Regions from separate parts of the Homo sapiens genome. Here region 2 is linked to region 1. Evidence: fine-mapped expression QTL. A gene starts in region 1. The other region holds a variant in brackets. All regions are shown on one strand. Distances are between the middles of the regions.

Region 1 (10,126 bases):
TCCCATGTAGAAAGGAACATCCAGAAAGTCCTTCCCAATTCTAGATCTCGTTGGTCTATTTTTAATACTTGACAAATGGATCATTGTGTTTCTATAAATATAGGTATCAGTTACTGTGCAAGGTCCCCAGGTATAAGAAAAGACAGCAGCAACCTGTGTGCCCTGTCACAGTATCTCTTGACTGAGGGGACAGAAACCTTGCTTTTGTGGTTGGAAAAAAAACAGTATAATGTAACCTAAAATCACACAGTAGGAATCACTTAATGGACTAGGATCCCACTAGATGGTAATTTAGGACTCACTCAGAAAAAATATGGGAAGTCTTATGACACACTCAGACTAAGCTCTATTTAGGAGTAGCTACCATTCACCTCATGTTGATTTGGAACACTCAACATTTTTGGGTCCATAACTTATACTCAAACTGCACCTCTGCCATAAATGCCCAGTGGCAACAACATGTTTGGTGGATATGGCAACACTGGCCAAGTAAGGTAGAGATCCTTAGGGGCAACAGGTGCAGGATTGGGGGTGTTAGGGCAAGTCAAGAGTGCATATAATGAAAAAAGGCATTTTCAAAAAAAATCAATACTTACTGACCTAAATTTAAGCTAAAGGAAGTACTCTTCCAGGAAAAAAATAAAGGCTAGGCAGCTGCCTGAAAAGATAATGATGCTATTTTTAAAGCGGGTAAATCAAACTGCTCAATTTATGGGGAAAATGCTAAGGTCCAATAGTGAAAAAGAGCATGTGTCCAAACTCACTTTTTTAGTTCTTTTTTTTTTTTATGGATTTAGGGGTACAAGTGCAGTTGTGTTACATGGATATATTGAGTAGTGGTAAAATGTGGGCATTTAGTGCACCCATCACCAGAATAATATACATTGTATCTAATAGGTGGTATTTTATCCTGCCCCCCTACCCTTGCACCACTTGGAGTCTCCAATGTCTATTATTCCACTCTGTATGTTTATGTGCACCCATTGTTTGACTCCCACTTGTCAGTGAGAAAAAAAATTAATTTTGTTTCTGAGTTATTTCACTAAAGAAAATGGTCTGCAGTTCCATCTATATATATAAATATATATATTTATATATAAGTGTTTTATATACTTATAAATTATATATATAAATATATTACATATTACATATTATAAATATATAAAACACATATTTATATATTATATATAATATATACTATATAACATATAAAATATATAAAATAAAGGCTAGGCAGCTGCCTGAAAAGATATTGTATATTATATATACAAATATAATGTTATATATAAAATATATATTTTATATATACTTATATAATATATAAATTATATATTTTATATAATTTATATTATATAAAATATATATAATATATATATCTTTATGTCCATGAGTACTCAATGTTTAGCTCCCATTTATAAGTGAGAACATGCAGCACTTGGTTTCCTGTTCCTGCATTAATTTGCTTAGGATAATGGCCTCCAGCTGCATTAATGTTGCTGCATATGACATGATTTTGTTCTTTTTATGGCTGTGTAGTATTGACTCATGTCCATGTACCACATTTTCCTTATCCAATCCATTGTTGATGGACACGTAGGTTGATTCGATGTCTTTGCTCTTGTGAATAGTGCTGTGATGCATGTGTCTTTTTGGCAGAATAATTTCTTTTCTTTTGAATATATACCCAGTAATTAGATTGCTGGGTTGACTTGTAGTTCTGTTTTATGTTATTTGAGACATGTCCAAACTGCTTTCCACAGTGGCTGAATTAATTTACATTCCCACCAATAGTGTTTAAGCATTCTCCTTTCCCCATGGCCTCACCAGCATCTGTTGTGTTTTGACTTTAAAAGCCATTCTGACTGGTGTGAAACGATATCATATTGTGGTTTTGATTTGCATTTCTCTGATGACCAGTGTTGTAGAGCATTTTTTCATATGCTTGTGGGCCATTTGTATGTCTTCTTTTGAAAAATGTTGTCCTTCATGTCAAGGGCAGTATGGTCACTTTTTAATGGTTTTTCTTGTTGAGTAGTTTGAGTTTCTTATAGATTTTGAATAGTCACCCTTTGTCACATGCATTCTTTGCAAATATTTTCTCCCATTCTATAGGCTGTATGTTTAGTCTGTTGATTATTTGTTTTGCATTGCAGAAGCTTTTTAGCTTAATGAAGTCCCATTTGTCAACTTTTGTTTTTCATTTTTGTTGTTTCCTTTTGAGGACTTAGTCATAAGTTCTTCGCCTAGGCCAATGTCCGGAAGAGTTTTTCCCAGGGTTTCTTCTAGGATTTTTATAGTTTCAGGTCTTACATTTAAGTCTTAAATCCATCTTGGTTAATTTTTGTATACGGTGAGAGACGGGGGTCCAGGTTCATTCTTCTGCATATGGCTCTAAAATTATCCCGGCACAATTTATTGAATAGGGTGTCCTTTTGCCAGTGTATATTTTGTCAAATATCAGTTTGCTGCAAATATGGGGCATTTATTTCTAGTTTCTCTATTTTGTTCCATTGATCTATGTGTCATGTCTATTTTTATACCAGTACCATGCTGTTTTGTTTACTATGGCTTTGTAGTATAATTTTAAGTCAAAATGTGATACCTCCAGCTTTACTCCTTTTGTTTAGGATTGCTTTGTCTATTTGGGCCCTTTTATGGTTCCACATGAATTTTAGGATTGTTTTTTCTAATTCCATGAAGAATGACATTGGTAGTTTGCCAGGTATTGTGTTGAATCTGTATTTGCTGAATATGTATTCCTGAATCTGTATTTGCTGAATCTGTATTGTTGAATTTGAATTGCTTTGGGCAGTATGGTCATTTTGATGACATTAATTCTTCTAATCCTGGAGCATGAGGCGTTTTTTCCATTTGTTTGTGTCATCTATTCTTTCTTTCTTTTTTTCTTTCCTTCTTTCCTTCCCTTTCTTCCATTCTTTTCCTTTTTCTTGAGACAGGGTCTCACTTTTTTTTTTTTTTTTTTTTTTTTTTTGAGACACAGTCTTGCTCTGTTGCCCAGGCTGGAGTGCAGTGGCATGATCTCGGCTCACTGAAAGCTCCACCTCCTGGGTTCATGCCATTCTCCTGCCTCAGCCTCCCGAGTAACTGGGACTACAGGCGCCCGCCACCACGCCCAGCTAATTTTTTGTATTTTTAGTAGTGACGGGGTTTCATCGTGTTAGCCAGGATGTTCTCGATCTCCTGACCTTTTCACCAAGGCTGGAGTCCATAATCATAGCTCACTGCAGCCTCCAACTGCTAGGCTCCAGCAATCCTCCCACCTCAGCCTCCTGAGTAGTTGGGACTACAGGCATGCAGTGTCAGGCCTCTGAGCCCAAGCTAAGCCATCATATACCCTGTGACCTGCAAGTTATATGCCCAGATGGCCTGAAACAAGTGAAGAATCACAAAAGAAGTGAAAATGGCCTGTTCCTGCCTTAACTGATGACATTCCACCACAAAAGAAGTGAAAAATGGTGGGTCCCTGCCTTAACTGATGACATTACCTTGTGAAATTCCTTCTCCTGGCTCATCCTGGCTCAAAAGCTCCCCCAGTGAGCACCTTGCGACCCCCACCCCTGCCTGCCAGAGAACAACCCCCCTTTGACTGTTAACACATTTTCCTTTACCTACCCAAATATTACAAAACGGCCCCACCCCTATCTCCCTTCACTGACTCTCTTTTGGACTCATCCCGCCTGCACCCAGGTGAAATAAACAGCCTTGTTGCTCACACAAAGCCTGTTTGGTGGTCTCTTCACACGGACGAGAGTGAAACGCAGCACCATGCCCAGCTAATTTCTTTGGTTTTTCAGGGATTGTAGAGACAGGGTCTCGCTATGTTGCCGAGACTGGTCTCAAACTTGTGGCCTCAAGCAATCCCCCAACCTTGGGCTTCCAAAGTGCTGAGATTACAGGCACCAGCCACCTCACCTGGCCTGATTTCTTTCATCAGTATTTTGTAGTTCTCCGTGTAGAGATCTGTACTAGTCTGTTTTCAGGCTGCTGATAAAGACATACCCCAGACTGCGCAATTTACAAAAGAAAGAGGTTTAATTGGACTTCCAGTTCCACGTGGCTGGGGAAGCCTCACAATCATAGTGGAAGGCAGGGAGCAAGTCCCATCTTACATGGATGGGAGCAGACAAAGAGAGAATGAGGAAGACGCAAAAGCGAAAACCCTGATAAAACCATCAGATCTCCTGATACTTAAGTCACTACCACGAAAACAGTATGGAAGAAAACACCCCAATGATTCAATTATCTCCCACCAGGTCCCTCCCACAACACATGGGAATTATGGGAGTATAATTCAAAATAAGATGTGGGTGAGGATACAGGGTCAAACCATATCAAGATCTTCCATGTCTTTCAACAAGAATAATTAATATGTTAATTCACATAGAAGCTGAAATAGTCTCCAAACATGGCCAACCCTCTTAGATTCAGAAACACAAGGTTTACACTTATAAAAAACATATGGACCCCTTTCCTCCTGGAAATTTACTACCAGGGTTTGTAGTCTAATTGACTATACTCCTACAGCTTTAACATCTCATATAGATGATAATCAGACCTATGATATAGTATAACTAGTTAAAATAGAAATCATATTTCAGAGTACCCACATTCTTCCCATGTGCAGTTGACGGGCCATATTACAAAAACAAAATTTGGAACTCCATTTCTGTTTTAGATTGTCCACAGCTTCAAGACGAATGTTATCGTCTACAAAATGTTTAAAATCCTGAAATTATAGAAACGTGGCTTTAGTCTCTACCCATTCAAAATAATATGTAATATATGGAAAATGTTTTTGTTGAGGAAGAAAGATAAATGAGACTGTGACCATCTTAGGCCTCACAATCAGACAACATTTAAGTCATATTGGTATTTGGTGCAAAACTGGATTCATAAAAAATTACTTTGGCGACAAAATGACACAGTAGTCTAGATATTGATACTCAAATATTCTGGGTATTAAAACTCAGTCTTCTTCAGGTTATACTCCCAGCTAACTTACTTTGGGACACGTTCTCGGTCTATACTGAGTCTGTGTTCCCAGGCTTAAGTCCTCAAACTTGGCCGAGTAATAAAACTAACCATGATTTCTTTAAGTTTTAGTACCTGTTATTTCACCTTTCGGTCGACAAATCGTTTTTCTCATGTTCCTCTGTCTTACATCAATTTAATTTGTAGACCAGCCAAATGACCTAAAAGGCTAGAAGGAAACAATTTTTCCTCCCCTACAACTATTTCCTCTAGTCCTCCGGCTGAAAGTTGTTCCACGTCCTGGGCAGAGAGAGCCCCACCAGGCAGCACCACCAGCTCCACAGAGTTGGAGCGATTCCCCCAAGAAGCTCCCCTGCGCCCCTCCTCACCCCCAGAGACCAGCAGAAGAAATGGCATCTATCCCTTGGAAGACACTAGGCAGGAGAGAACAACTGCAAGCCCTTCTGCTCACACAGAAAAAAGGATGGCGGAGGTGGCGAATGGGATGTAGCAGAAACCCCGCGGCTGCGGCGGAAGGGACACCGCCCCTCTCCAGCCTAACTCTGAGCCATCTTCCCCCTGTTGTTATAGCACTTAGAACGGACGCCACTGCGCAGGTCACACCGTGCCGCGCAGCCTTCTGGGGGTCGGAGTCCAGAGGGGCTGAGGCGCGAAGGCGGAGACCGACTTCTTAGCGGGCCGCAGTTGGAATTAGATTTCTACTGGGGCGGGGCTCGAGCGAACCACGGCCTAATCCTCATTAGCAGAGAAGGATAATTACCGCAATACTCTGCCCTGCCCTGACAGCAGCTCGTGAGACCCTGAGTCTGCTGAAGGCCGCCTCCAGCCTGGGCTCCGGGCACAGGCCACACCCCTCCCGCCGCGTCCTGGCCTCTCCCATCGATGGCGTGTGGGTGGGGCTTCGTGGGGGCGGAGCTGCGCGGGGCGGGGCGTCGCTGCGCGGGGCGGGGCGTCGCGGGCTCGTCCGTGATGCTCTGGGATCCCGCGCTTCCGAGACTCGCAGTCTACGCGAGCTGCCTGTTTTTTTCCTGCTTGGACGCGCATGAGGGCCCCGTCCATGGACCGCGCGGCCGTGGCGAGGGTGGGCGCGGTAGCGAGCGCCAGCGTGTGCGCCCTGGTGGCGGGGGTGGTGCTGGCTCAGTACATATTCACCTTGAAGAGGAAGACGGGGCGGAAGACCAAGATCATCGAGATGGTGAGTGTGGAGGCTCGGCGCGCCCAGAGCACGCGAGGGGCCGGCTGGGCCGTCCGCTGGCCTCGGCAGCCTGTGCTGGGCCGCTGTTCGGTCGCGACGGGGAGCTGCCGGCGTCGCCTGTCAGGCTGGGATCTCGCTAGCTCGGGACGCGCAGCTTGGGGGACCCGGCCGCCCCGCGTGCGGCCACTCCGCGGGCTTGGTGACCAGGGTTGGGTCCCCGGCTGCGGCCCTTGGCTGCCCGTGGTCTTTGTTAGGTTTCCGTTTGAAGGAACAAGGCAGAAAATAGATGAATCGGACACAGGCTACTTTGTGCTGCAAAACCCGTTTCTCTAGAGATAAGCTGCATGTCCTGGGCAGGTGGCTCCTTCTCTCCCTGCCTTGCTCCCGCCCTCCCCCCGGATCCGCGTCAAACCGTTGCCGCTAATCTAGTTGCAATTCCCGCAGAGGACTAGTTTTATGTTGGGGCTGCCGTGAGTTAGATTATGAAAATGTGCAATATCTAAAATTTTACAAGAATGGCAATCCAGGAGAAATTCAGGATAGTTTATTTTGTATTTGAATGTATTCCTTCTTGTCTCAAAACTCCCACGAAATATCTTTGTTTTCATCTTAACTCCCAAAGCTCTTGTATACATTTTCGAATTTAATTTTTTATTGAAGAGGGTGTCTCAAGAATTCCCTTTGAGATACATTATAAGTAATTGTTTCAAAAATGAGGATATTTAGTTTCGTTTTGTATTTTAATTAGAACCCACTCAGGAAGACAATTCTTGCACAAACTTGCACGCTTATGTATTTCCTGAAATGCATAATCCTGGGTATACGCCTGACCGTGTGCTATACATGTGAACATCTAGGGTCAGATGATTTATGATAGAAAAAAATTTAAAATCTACACTAAATAATATCATTTTAGGGTGTAATACTTGGAATTTCTGAGCACCTGCAATATGTTCCAACTGACGAAAGACACGATTTGTCCTATTGGTTGTACTGACCCCAGGTTGAATACAGATGTATTTGCATAATTAAAATTAGCCAGTGTCCCAGCTATTTGGGAGGCTGAGAGGAAGATCACTGGAGTCTGGGAGTTCAAGGTTATAATCACACCTGTGGATAGCTACTGCACTCCAGCCTGGGAAACATAGCGAGACCCTGTCTCTTAAAAAAAAAAGTTAATTCCCACTTGTCTCATATTCCAATAATATTCCCTAATTTTGAATTAATTTATTCTTAAAGGGTCTTAATAATTCTAAAGGCTTATTAAAATTCATTTGTCCCACATCTGTATGCCCACAGCAGCAAATGGTTTTAACTCAGAAGTTTCATTTTGCTTTTGTTGCTTTCCTGCTTAGAAAACTTGGCTTTCTTTTGCCCAAGGTTAATAATGCCTATGTAGGGGAAAAAACCGAGTTGCCATATCTCCCTGCCTGTGCTTAAACTATGGATTGGTCTGTATACCACTTATCTAAGCCAAGTAAGGTTAAAAATCAGTGTGTTCACAAAATCCTTCAATGATACCATCATAGGAACAGTTTGCTATCTTTGTGACAAATAATGAAGACCTATCTAGAATACCAACTTATTGGTACTAAAGAAATCAGTCAATATTTACATGTATGCATAGTATATTAATTCAGATTGTAATATATGTGTAGCCTGCTAGTAGCTTTTCAATGGAAAAAGTGAAAAGAGCTTCATGTTAACTTTTTTAATTTTAATAGGTTGCTTCTTCAAGTGGAAGAAGTATTTGACTGGGGGTCAGAAGACCTGGGTTGGAATCCTAGTTCCATCTTTCTGTAATAATGTAGGTCTGCTCTGCCCATCCTCTGCCCTCCTCCCTCAGAAAAATCTCTGCAAACCCATGATGTCCAACAGACATAGCTCATATTGGTCACAGCTAACGGAGTTAACTACCTAACCAAGTTGGGCCTATCTAACTGGCTAAGAAAACCAATAACTTCTGGGACTTGGTCAAAATGATGCATTGTCTTGCAAGAGTTTTTAATTGAGAGACATGAGGAAGTTGCTAGTGGGTTGTGTATGCTACAGCTGAAATATCCCATAGGGCAGCAAGATTAATGTACAGAAGAAGCCAGTCATGGCTAGGCATGGTGGCTCACACCTGTAATCCCAGCACTTTGGGAGGGTGAGGTGGGAGAACCCTGTCTCAAAAAAAAAAAAAAAAAAAAAAAAAAGAAGGAAAGCAAGATACGGAATGGGATCAAGAAACTGAATTGTAAAGGAATTTTGTAAAGCCATTATAAAGAGTTTGCTCTTTATTTTGCAACAAAGGATCATCAAAGGTTTGCTTTGGCAGGGTACAGTGGCTCACGCCTGCAATCCCAGCACTTTTGGAGGCTGAGGCGGGAGGATCCCTTGAGCCCAGGAGTTCGAGACCAGCCTGGGCGGCATAGGGAGACCCTTTCTCTACAGAAAATAAAGATTTTAGCCAGTGCAGTGGCACACACTTGTAGTGTAGTCCCACCTACTTAGGGGCCGAAGGTGAAATCTCTTCAGTCAAGGTGGTCGAGGCTGCAGTGAGTCGTGATCACACCATTGCACTCAAGCTTGGGTGACAGAGTCACCCAGAGTCTCAAAACAGAGAAACAAAAAACCCAACAGTATGTTTTATGAAGATGAGATAAGGTGGACTGGAAGGGAAGATCCTGGAAAGAAATAAATTTAGGAGGTTGGTAGTATTGCTTGCGAAAGATGATTAGAGATCTTAAACTATGGCACTAGCAACAGGTATGGAAATAAGGGATCAGGAGACAAACATTTCCGAGATAAAATCAACGGGACTTTGTGCACAGACTGTAGAGTCATACAAACCTAGTTTTGAATCTAGTTTTTCTCATTTATCAAGCCATGTGACCTTGGGCAAATTACTTAACCTCTCTGAATCTCCCATTTTTCATCTATTAATTGGGAGATAATGATAGTACCTACTTCATAGGTTGTGAAGATTAAATGAGATAACACAGTGCCTAGAACATAATTGCTTTCTTTCAGAGCTTATTATTTGTGATCATTAGATAAAGGGATTAATTGTAAGGAGAAATAACTTTAAGATTATCAGGTAACTGCTGATTCTGGTTATATTATTAGCCAAGATGAAGAGAAGGAAAAAATGGCAGGTTTGGAAAGTAGCCAGGAGGTAAGGGAAATGTGGAATCACAAGTTCACTTTAAGTCATATGAAATTTGAGATGATCAAGGAATGACCAACTAGAAATGTTCATGAAATAGTTAATATATTTAAAGTGCTTAGAAAAGTGCCTGGCCCAGAGTAACCAATATATACATTACTTATTGTTATTATTAGCAATAGCAACTGAAAATGGAAGGCTGGAGCTCTAAAGATAAATTGAGGCTAGAAATAATATTTTCCCTAATGTCTAGCCTCTCAATGGCCAGTGTGGAGCTGGATATTATTTCTCATCCATAGTTTTACAGCGAGAAGAAAACAGAAAACTTGGCAATGCCAAGTTCAGTAAAGATGCTGAAAGCTGTCAGAGGTGGAATAACAGGAAATGTTTCCAAAAGAAGGGGCAGAATTAGCTATGTCCATCTTCTCTAAGGTCAGAAGTTGATGACAAGATCAGAAGTTGGTCTGAAAGGCTATGGTAGCAGTGGGTTGAGCCGCCGTTGGTAAAACAATGATGTGAAGACAACTAAAAAATGACTTTTGGGCAGAGGAAGTAGTTGTGCTGAGGATGGGTATTTTGTTTTGTTTTTCGAATGGTTGGCACAGAAGTATGTTGGTGGGCAGAGGAGTAGTGAAAAGCAAATGGTTAAAGATAAGAGGAGGAGAAAAAATAATCAGTCTAGCAAAGTTCTAGGGGAGATGTGGACAGATGCCTTTTGAGGGGAATACGGAACATCTCTGTCTTTCTGAAAGAGTGTACTACTCTGG
Region 2 (10,227 bases), 70 kb after region 1:
TCACACCAGGAAGACACCAGCAGGGACGCCAGCCGCTACTCTTCTGCTGCAGATTTACATGTAATACAGAGGCTCTCAGAGTACAAAATGCACTTCCTGATAAGGAGCTCTGGCTCATGTGGCTCCTGAGTGCTCTGCCAGGATGTTATGAGTCCTTCAAACACAAGCAGGAGGCAGGGAGACTGACTCTCCCCGCCCCACGTGAGAAGCAGATCCTGGAGCCTCCGAGAAGGAATTCCTTTGTTCATTCCCCACACCCACTTCCCCTTTCCTCAGCCTCAGGATCAGCGGACAGGAATATGAACATCAGCAGGAGCAGTGACAGCAGCCACGGACCTTACAGACCCTTCTAACCTCATGGACCATTTTCACTCTTAGGAGCTCACTTGATCCACAAAAGCACTACAAGCCATGCCCCTTCCCTGCTGCCCTGCCTCCCGCTAGCTTCTAATAGTCAGTGGTTGGGATTTCTTTGCAAGGTCTGTTGTAAGCCAGGTCCCTGTACATCTGGGCCCTGGAAGCCTAGCACATATTTCACTGATTCTAAAATGCATATTTTTTCACAGTTTAACCTTTCTATAATTAGGATACATTTTATGACTGACAGTATGTCATCAGTTAGCGTTTTTACTTGGTCAGAGATACATGAAATGTTTCCATCACGCTCTTTAGAGTTGTTGAAATACATTAAATGCATTAGCATACAGGATCCCATACCGAGAGGGAGAGCTCTGAAGAGTATATCCATAGGGTCTTTTCTTTTTCTTTCTTTTTGGAGACAGAGTCTCACTCTGTTGCTCAGGCTGCAGTGCAGCAGTGCTATCTCGGCTCACTACAACCTCTACCTCCCAGATTCAAGAGATTCTCCTGCCTCAGCCTCATGAGTAGCTGGGATTACATTTGCCCGCCACTACGCCCGGCTAATTTTTGTATTTTTAGTAGAGATGGGGTTTCACCAAGTTGGCCAGGATGGTCTTGATCTCTTGACCTCGTGATCTGCCCACCTTGGCCTGCCAAAGTGCTAGGATTACAGGCATGAGCCACCGCACCCAGCCTCTGTGCATCAATTTTTAAAGAAAGCAGTTCGGCTGGGCATGACGGCTCAAATCTGTAACTCCAGCACTTTGGGAGGCCAAGAGGGGAGGATCATTTGAGGTCAGGAGTTCGAGACCAGCCTGGGCAACATAGTGAGACCCCCCCCATCTCTAAAAAAATTTTAAAAATTAGCCTGGGTCAGGTGCAGTGACTCACACCTGTAATCCTACCACTTTGGGAAACTGAGGCAGGAGGATCACCTGAACCCAGGAGTTTGAGACCAGCCAGGGCAACATGGCAAAACCTTCTCTCTGCTAAAAAGTAAACAAAATTAGCCAAGTATAGTGGTGCGTGCCTGCAATCCCAGCTACTTGGGAGGCTGAGGCGGGAGGATCACTTGAACCTGGAAGGCAGAGGTTGCAGTGAGCCGAGATAGCACCACTGCACTCCAGCCTGGGTGAAAGAGTGAGACTTGGCCGGGCGCGGAGGCTCACGCCTGTAATCCCAGCACTTTGGGAGGCCGAGGCGGGTGGATCATGAGGTCAGGAGATCGAGACCATCCTGGCTAACAAGGTGAAACCCCGTCTCTACTAAAAATACAAAAAATTAGCCAGGCGCGGTGGCGGGTGCCTGTAGTCCCAGCTACTAGGGAGGCTGAGGCAGGAGAATGGCGTGAACCCGGGAAGCGGAGCTTGCAGTGAGCCAAGATTGCGCCACTGCAGTCCGCAGTCCGGCCTGGGCGACAGAGCGAGACTCCGTCTCAAAAAAAAAAAAAAAAAAAAAAAAAAAGAGTGAGACTTTATCAAAAAAAAAAAAAAAAGAAAGAAAGGAAGGAAGGAAGGAAAAAAAGAGAGAAAGAGAGAAAGAGAAAGAAAGGAAAGAAGAGGAAGGGAGGGAGGGAGGGAGCAAGGAAGGAAGGAAGGAAGGAAGGAAGGAAGGAAGGAAGGAAGGAAGGAAGGAAAGATAGCAGTTATACGATGAGATCTGCTTTTCAGAAAGACAATTTCATGGGGTGAAAAATGACCTGCAGCAGGGCAAGACCATTAATAGGAAACTCTTAACACAATGCACCTGAGCAGTGATGCAGCCACGAGCTATGCAGTGGGGCAGCATGGAGATAAAAGCTCTCAACCAGCATCTACCCAAGAGAGGAGGATGGTGGGAGCATGCAACTGTCACCCTCCAGGCTCACTCCCACACCATTCTGGTTGCCCTTACGTGGAGTCCAGCAGGGTCCCATCCAGAAGTGAGGCATTGTAGTGATATTTGAGGTAATCTCCCTTCTTACTCAGCACTGAGCAGTCAGGGGGTTTGTAGTGGGAGGTGATGCTGATGGAGTCCGAAGGGTTGTGGAAGTCGATCACATGGATGTCAAACACCAGCACAGCCGAGCCGGGGATATTCCCTAAAGGACAGACACGGGGAATTAATGAATGACCCCTGCAGGCTGCAGCACATGGGCCTCCCCAGTGTCACCAGGTATGTCCTCAAGGCCCTCCAAGTGAGGAAAACGGGCACCCAGATACAGAACCCTAGGAGGACTCCAAGACTGACGCTGAAAGGGCTGTTAGATGTAACCTCATCCTCATTTTACAGGTGGATAAACGGAGGCACAGATTTGCCGTGGGTCTCACAGCCTGTAATGAGCACAGTTTGGACTAAAATTCAAGACTATGGACTATTGCCCCATGGAATCGTTGAGCCTGAAAGATGAGTGGCTAAGTTGATCACAGATGAGGAAACTCAAACCCAGCCAAATTAATACTTGCCCCTTGCCCACTGGAAGTAAGAGGTGGGGTGAGAAAATCAGCCGTAGAGTGAAATCACTCCAATGTCCTACCACTGCTCAAGAAAAACATAACATAAACTTCATAAAGAAAAAAACACCTCTCCCCCAAAATTGGCCCCTTATGATCATACACCTAACAGTCACAAGGTGCTTTTAGAATACATCCTATTTGTTCTATACTAAATTATTTATTAACTTTTCCATAATTTCCAATTTTGAAGACAGTAGCTCACATCTGAATAATGTTTTACAGTTTGCCAAAGTATTTTTCACCTACATTTTCCCTTTAAATCCCTGCAGCAACCTTATGGGGTAGGCATGGCCATAACCCCAGGAATTTAACGACAGCTTCCCAGGGGCGTGGGGGACACTTAAACATATGCATCAGTTGTAATACATCCCCCAGCCCAAATCATTTCAGAGAAGTTTAAATGTAAAATATTTTAAAATCATGTTACCTAGAGTCAAGGACATATTTTATTATCATCAGCATTTTACATATAAAAAAACCAACTCAGGTTAGGTATGGTGGTGGCTCATGCCTATAATCTCAACTCTGGGAGGCTGAGGTGGGAGGATCACTTGAGGCCAGGGGTTTGAGACCAGCCTAGGCAACACAGCCAAATGTCTCTACAAAAAAATTAGCTGGGCGTGGTGGTGAGCACTTGTAGTCCCAGATACTCGGGAGGTTGAGGCAGGAGGATTGCTTGAGGCCAGGAGGTCAAGGCTACAGTGAGTTAGGATTGCACCACTGTACTCTAGCCTGGGCAACAGAGTGAGACTCCGTCCTCAAAAAAGAAAGAAAGAAAGAAATGAAAAATTCAGACATGATATTACTTATTCAAGAGAATAACACAGCTAATGACAAAATTCAGATAGAGATACACAAACTCCAACAGTCCCTCCTTACCTCCTGTCCCAACACGTACTTTTCTGTGTCTGCTTCTTGATTGGTCTCTCTCCTATCTCTAATAGAAACACACTCACGCTCATATTTAATAGGCGTTTATTGAGTACCAGGCATTCTTCTAAATTAAACATGTATTGTTTAATTCTCATTAAAATCCTGAGAAAATGGAGGTACAAATTTTGGGGCTGGCCAAAGTTAAAGGTAATAATTTGAGAAGCGTGTGCTTTAATAGCAGAACACAGGTGCCTGCTACTCACTCAAAACAGGGGCTGCTGGTGTGGGTGGAGTGGGGTGCAGGCTCCTTCCCACAGGAACCAGGAAGTACAGCCTGCCATTGGCCAGAAGGCTGCTCAAAGCCAGGCCACGGATGGCTCTGTGTGGGAAGCTAACACACATGGACAGGGTGGGTGTCTGCAGAGGCAGATCTATGGTTCCTCAACCTTGGTAACCTGTTAAAAATCACCTGGGAATGAACCCGAAAACATTATGCTAAGTGAAAGAAGCCAGACACAAAAGGCCACATACTGTAGGATTCCAGGGATATGGAAACATCCAGCATAAGCAAATCCATACAGACAAGAAATAGACTACCTGTTGCCAGCGTGGGGGAAGTGGATGGATGAGGACAGGGTACGGAGAGTGACCGCTAATGGTTATGGGTTACTTTTTGGAGTGATGAAACTGTGCTGGAATTAGGTAGAGGTAATGGTTATGTTACCTGGTTAATATACTAAAAACAACTAAATTGTAAACTTTAACATGATTATTTTTATAGTATGTGAATTATATTTCAAGAAAACATTAAATAAAAATATCTTTCTTGGGTATATATACAAAAGAATTGAAGCTGGAGATGCGAACAGATATTTGTACACTCATATTCACAGAAGCATTAAGCATTATTCACAACAGACAAAAAGTAGAAACAGCCTAAGTGTTCATCACCAGACGAACTGATCAACAAAATGTAGTATATACATCCAATGGAATATTCATTCAGCAATAAAAAGGAATGAAATTTATTAGCCAGAAATGAGGAATTAATTTTTTTTTTTTGAGATGGAGTCTTGCTCTGTCATCCAGGCTGGAGTGCATTGGCATGTTCTCAGCTCACCGCAACCTCCGTCCCCCGGGTTCAAG[C/T]GATTTCCCTGCCTCAGCTGAGATTACAGACGCGTACCACCACACCTGGCTAATTTTTGTGTTTTTAGTAGAGACAGGGTTTCACCATGTTGGCCAGGCTGATCTTGAACTCCTGACCTCAGGTTATCCGCCTGCTTCAGCCTCCCAAAGTGCTGGGATTACAGGCGTGAGCCACCGCGCCCAGCTTGAAATTTTGATAAATGCTAAAATACAAATAGACCTTGAAAACATTATGCTAAGTAAAATAAGACAGACACAGAAAGAGAAATATTGTATGATTCCACTCAAGTGAGGCACTTAGAATAGGCAAATTGGTAGAGACAGAAAGAAAGGTGGTTGTCAGAGGTTGATAGGAGGGAGGAATCGGGAGTTATTGTGTAATGGGTTTATGTTGGGGATGATGAAAGAGTTCTGAGTGTAGATGATAGTAATGGTTATACAACATTGTGAATATATTTGATGCCACTAAACTGTACACTTAAAATGGTTAACAAGGTAAAGATGTTAAGTATATTTTACCACAAATTTTAAAAACTTCTAACACTGAGCTAAGCAGTCACCAAATTTTATCAATTCAAATATAATCTCCCCTCCAAGATGCATTCAGGTGCAGGGCCTTCTCCAGGGCAAAAGGGAATGCATCTGGAACCACCCACATCCCTGGGATCTGATGTCAGCAGTCAAATGAACTCAGCCTCTCAGGCCCCGAGGATTCCAGGCACAAGAATTCCAACCAGTGTAGAGGTCGATTCACACCCAGTCAAGGAACCATGTAGCATCAGGTGAGTATGTCAGCTTCTAGGAAGTTAACGTGAGTCAGTCTCCCAGGTGCCTGATAACCTCTGAGGCACACACATTATTGAGGGCGTCAACAAGGAAACACTCTCTGTGTGCGTAGGAAGTTTTGTTTGTGTTTCTTTCTGCTGAATCCCTAACACCGTGAGCAGGGCCTGGTCATGAAGAAACTCAATAAATCTTTGATGGATGGATAGATGGAGTTTCTCCGCCTGCAAAAATGAAGATCAGAGCCTTGAACCATAGACCCCACCTACCCCAGGCAGCACCAAGGCTTCGAACCTCTATCCCTCTATCTTGCTCTGACTTCCACAAAGCTATTTGTAGATTAAGTATAGAAATGAGTGCTGACCAGCAAACGGGCAGAAATAGTCCAACGTGGCTCCAACACCAACCTCCTCTCTGTATAAACCCTTAACCAATGCAGAAGTCATCATTCTGTTCTCACCATGAGGATGCCTCCCTCAGAAGAGATACAGATGAGAAAAACTTAAAAGCGGCCAATAGCCCACCCAAGAAACTCTGCAGCTCCTGCTGGGGGTGGATTTCCTCTGCTGGTGGTGGGTTTCCTCTGCGGTGGGTGGGTTTCCTCTGCGGGGGGTGGGTTTCCTCTGCAGAGAGTCAGTTTCCTCTGAGGGGGGTGGGTTTCCTCTGAGGGGGTGGGTTTCCTCTGCGGGGGTGGGTTTCTTCTGAGGGGAGTGGGTTTCCTCTGAGGAAGGTGGGTTTCCTCTGAGCGGGTGTGTTTCCTCTGAGAGCTCTAGGACTTCTGGTTTGAGGTCTCGGTTCTCCACATATGGGTATCAACAAGTCACTACCTAATGGGGACTCATTCTTTCTGTCTGTCTAGGACACATATGGGTCAGAGAGCCCTGGGTCCAATTCCAGCTCCATCATGGATTAGCTATTGTGGCCTTGGACACATGGGTGGAACTCTCTGGGCCTCATTATATTTCTAAACAATGAGGGTAATGATGCCTCAGAAGACTGTTTCCAGGTTTGAATGAGTTCATGTGCAAGAAGTCCCAGACACACAGTGGGTAAAATGTAATTTATTAACTTTCCTCTCTTTCCTAAAAGGGTGCTCAAAAGGTAATCTGGAAGTTGAGTAACAGCAAACCATCGATGAAGTGATGCTTACACATCCTCGCAGGCAGAATCCATTCTCCACTTTGAGGCTGCAAACCCATCCAAATGCCCTAATTTCAGGGCTGACCCATGGAACAAAGCAGATGGCAGAAAGATCCAGAACCTCTCCCAGGAGGCCTACCCTTTCCCCTCCACCAATCTTGCAGGGGAAAATGGCTGTGACAGAATGAAATGCTGATAGAGGCTGAGAGCACACGGTCAGCCCACAATTCATTCCTTCCACAAATATTTGCCAAACATTCACAATGTGCCTGGCCCTGTGGTATGCAGTGAAGAAGCCACTAAGAAGACAGTTTCAGCATCCTGACCCCTCTCGGGTCAGCCCCTCAGGGATCAGCACGAGCTCCTATGTAACCCCCACAAAGAGGCCAAGGGTGCTGATCAGGAGAGGACAGAGGCAGACTCCACTCAAGAGCACTTGGGGTTTATACCTCAGGGTCACTCAGGGTGCCCTCCTCCCACAGCAACGTGATTCAGGATGAAGGAGTCTCATTGCCCAGAAAATTTACGAGCCTTCGGCTGCTTCCCAGAGGCTTATATAATTCTTTGCAGAGCTCTGTCTCATACTTGATAGAAAGCCAAGAGGAAAAAAAGTAATTTAAGCAAATGTTTTCCATCAATGCATTCTTTTCAAAGAAAGGAAAGATTAGTCCTCAGGCCATAAAGAAACAAGAACATTCAGAAAGTATTTATCTGTTTCTGTTTATATTTGACTAGAAGTAGAAATCCACACGATAAAAAGCAATAGAGAATCAAGACACTAGACAAGCAGGATGTGTGAAGAAAGCCCTGTCGAATGGATCTTAAGCTGTGATCTGTTGTGGTTTAATCAATCAGAAATTTAAGTCAGGGAGAAAAAAATATTTCTCCATTGTACAACCTACCTTCCAACCAACTTGACGTTTCTTGGATCCTCTGGGATGAACACTACTGGGAAAACTCTCAAGATACATATGATGTATCAACAAAAAAACAGAACAGAACTAACAAAATAAATGTACAGCCAGCAAGGCCAGCCTCCATCAGCAAAAGAATACAAAAACAAAATAAATACTGCATCAACTATTGCTAAGCGAGGGAGCAGCCATTAAAATACATAGCATAGAAAGTTGTTCACAACATATCTGTTGTTCACCACAAATTAGGTGAAGAGAGAAATCACAAAGTAATACGCATAGACAATCCCATGTTTGTCCGTATTGATTAGTGTAGGTGGGCATTTTTTTTTAAACCTATACATAAACTCAAAGGTACAGAAGGACATTCACTTCATGGCTGCATTTGTTTCCTACTGTTGCTGCAGCAAAATACCACAAACTTGTTGGCTTAAAACAACGCAAACGGATTCCCCTAATTCTGGAAGGCAGAAGCATAAATTCAAGGTATTGTTAGGGATATGTTCCTTTTGGAGGCTGCCGGGGAGAATGTGTTTCCATCTTTTCCAGCCTCTCGGGGCCACCTTCATTCCCTGACAGGGTCCTCCTTCTGTATCTTCTAAGTCAGCAGTTTAGCACTTTTTCCCCGGTCTGACCCCCTGCCTCCCTTTTACAAAGACTGTTGCAAGTATTTTGAGGCCACCTGGATAATCTAGAATACTATTCCTATCTCAAGATCCTTAATCAAATCTGTAAAGTCCCTTTTAATAAGGTAACAGGAGGCTAGGCATGGTGGCTCACACCTGTCATCCCAGCACTTCAGAAGGCCAAGGTGGGAGGATTGCTTGAGCTCAGGAGTTCCAGACAAGCCTGGGAAACATAGCAAGACCATGTCTGTCTTTACAAAAAAAAAAAAATTGCTTTTGAATTAGCCGTGCATGGTAGCACACACATGTAGTCCTAGCTACTCAGGAGGCTGATGCAGGAGGATCACTTTAACACAGAAGCTGGAGGCTGCAGTGAGTTAGGAGCTTATCTTACCACTGCACTCCAGCCTGGGCAACAGAACAAGACTTTGTCTCAAAACAAAATAAAGTAAGGTAACATACTCACAGGTTCTGGGGATTAGAACATAGATACTTGGAGGGGCTGAATATTCTGCCTACCAGATTAAGATTAACAATATTTGTTTCTGGCATGGCATGGCGCTCACATCTATAATCCCAGCACTTTGGGAAGCCAAGGTGGGCAGATCACTTGGGCCAGGAGTTTGAGACTAGCCTGGCCAACATAGTGAAACTCCATCTCTACTGAAAATTAAAAAAAAAAATTAGCCAGGCGTGGTGGCACATGCCTGTAGTCCCAGCTACTTGGGAGGCTAAGGCACGAGACTCACCTGAACCCAGGAGGCAGAGGTTGCAGTGAGCCAAGATCGTGCCACTGTACTCCAGCCTGGGTGACAGAATGAGACTCTATCTCAAAAAAAGAAAAAAGAAAAAAAGGAAAAAAAATCTTTATTTCTGGGTGGCAGGATTTCTTTGCTTAACTGTATTTTCTTTTTCTAAAGTCAACATGTATGATTTGTGTAACTTTTAAAAGGAAGTGTGGTATGAGGGTGACAAAAATGTTCTAAAACAGGATTATAGTGATGGTGACATAACCCACTAAATGTTCTAAAAGTCACTAAATTGTATACTTAAATGGGTGAATTTTATAATATATAAAACAAAAACCAAAGAGGGGCTTTTGCACTTACTTTCAATGGTTCAGCCCAAAATAAATAAATAAATATAAAAAGAGATCAAATATAGCAAAATGTTAACAACTGGCAAAACAAAGTGGAATTCACCATAACGTGCTTTTGACTTTGGTGTAGGATTTAACATTTTCAAAAGGTAAAGGAAAATGGGCAGAGAAACAAGGAGAAATAACAGGACAACTCTAGAAACTAAATCTATTTGGGAATTCCAGTCTTAAGCTGGACTTTAGCTTCAATATTTTGGCTCTCAAGAAGTTCTGTGCAGGGTGTGGTGGTGCGTGCCTGTAGTGCCAGCTACTCTGAAGGCTGAGGCAAGAGGATCACTTGAGGCCAAGAGTTCCAGGCCATAGTACACGATGATCACACACTACACTTTCCAGCCTGTTCAACAGAGGGAGACCCTATCTCAAAAAGAAAGAAGAAAAAGAAAAAGAAGCCCTGTTTCAAGCAATGTGGAAGCAGCCACAGCTAGTGAGGAAGGCAGGTGATGCTGATGCTCACCTCTTCCTTCCTCTCCATACCCCAGGTGAGGCGGGACCACAATCCTTCGCTTTTCTCCAATGCAAACACCAAGTAGACCTTCATCCATCCCAGGAATCACGTAGCCCTGCCCAATGTACGTGTCAAACGTGCGGTTCCGAGAGTAGCTAGAAAAGAAGAAAGGAAAGAAAGAGGTCATTCATGAGGGCCTCCACAGCAGCTGTGCAAATTAGTTGGGAAAGAGATGCAAAGGCACACAGAGGCCTCCAGACTCCGGAACAGCGTAAACCACAGTATC

Alleles and levels. Alleles are on the strand shown, and positions count from the first base shown. SD is a standard deviation of normalised expression in the study named.
In carriers of allele C in region 2, the expression in monocytes after interferon gamma of the gene that starts at base 6,000 in region 1 tends to be higher than with T alone (large effect, 1.4 SD a copy in Fairfax 2014).

Evidence for each region. PIP is the estimated chance that this variant, and not a neighbour inherited with it, causes the effect.
Region 2: its variant is the best candidate, but not a certain one, in a credible set for the expression of NT5C3A in monocytes after interferon gamma (Fairfax 2014, PIP 0.82).

Annotation. Positions count from the first base shown.
Region 1 is chr7:33,058,650-33,068,775 of GRCh38, reverse strand. It overlaps NT5C3A (5'-nucleotidase, cytosolic IIIA), which reads left to right and starts at 6,000. Exons shown (of 9, transcript NM_001002010.5): 1 at 6,000-6,208. The coding sequence starts at 6,071. It overlaps LOC124901610 (a long non-coding RNA gene), which reads right to left and starts at 5,591. Exons shown (of 4, transcript XR_007060279.1): 1 at 5,128-5,591; 2 at 4,629-4,747. RefSeq lists an enhancer at 5,486-5,645 and silencers at 5,886-6,005, 6,306-6,365.
Region 2 is chr7:32,988,376-32,998,602 of GRCh38, reverse strand. It overlaps FKBP9 (FKBP prolyl isomerase 9), which reads right to left. Exons shown (of 10, transcript NM_007270.5): 6 at 9,951-10,096; 7 at 2,254-2,440. Among named protein-coding and RNA genes, the nearest start is that of FKBP9, 36 kb to the right of the region's middle. The variant C/T (reference allele first, on the strand shown) is at 4,875.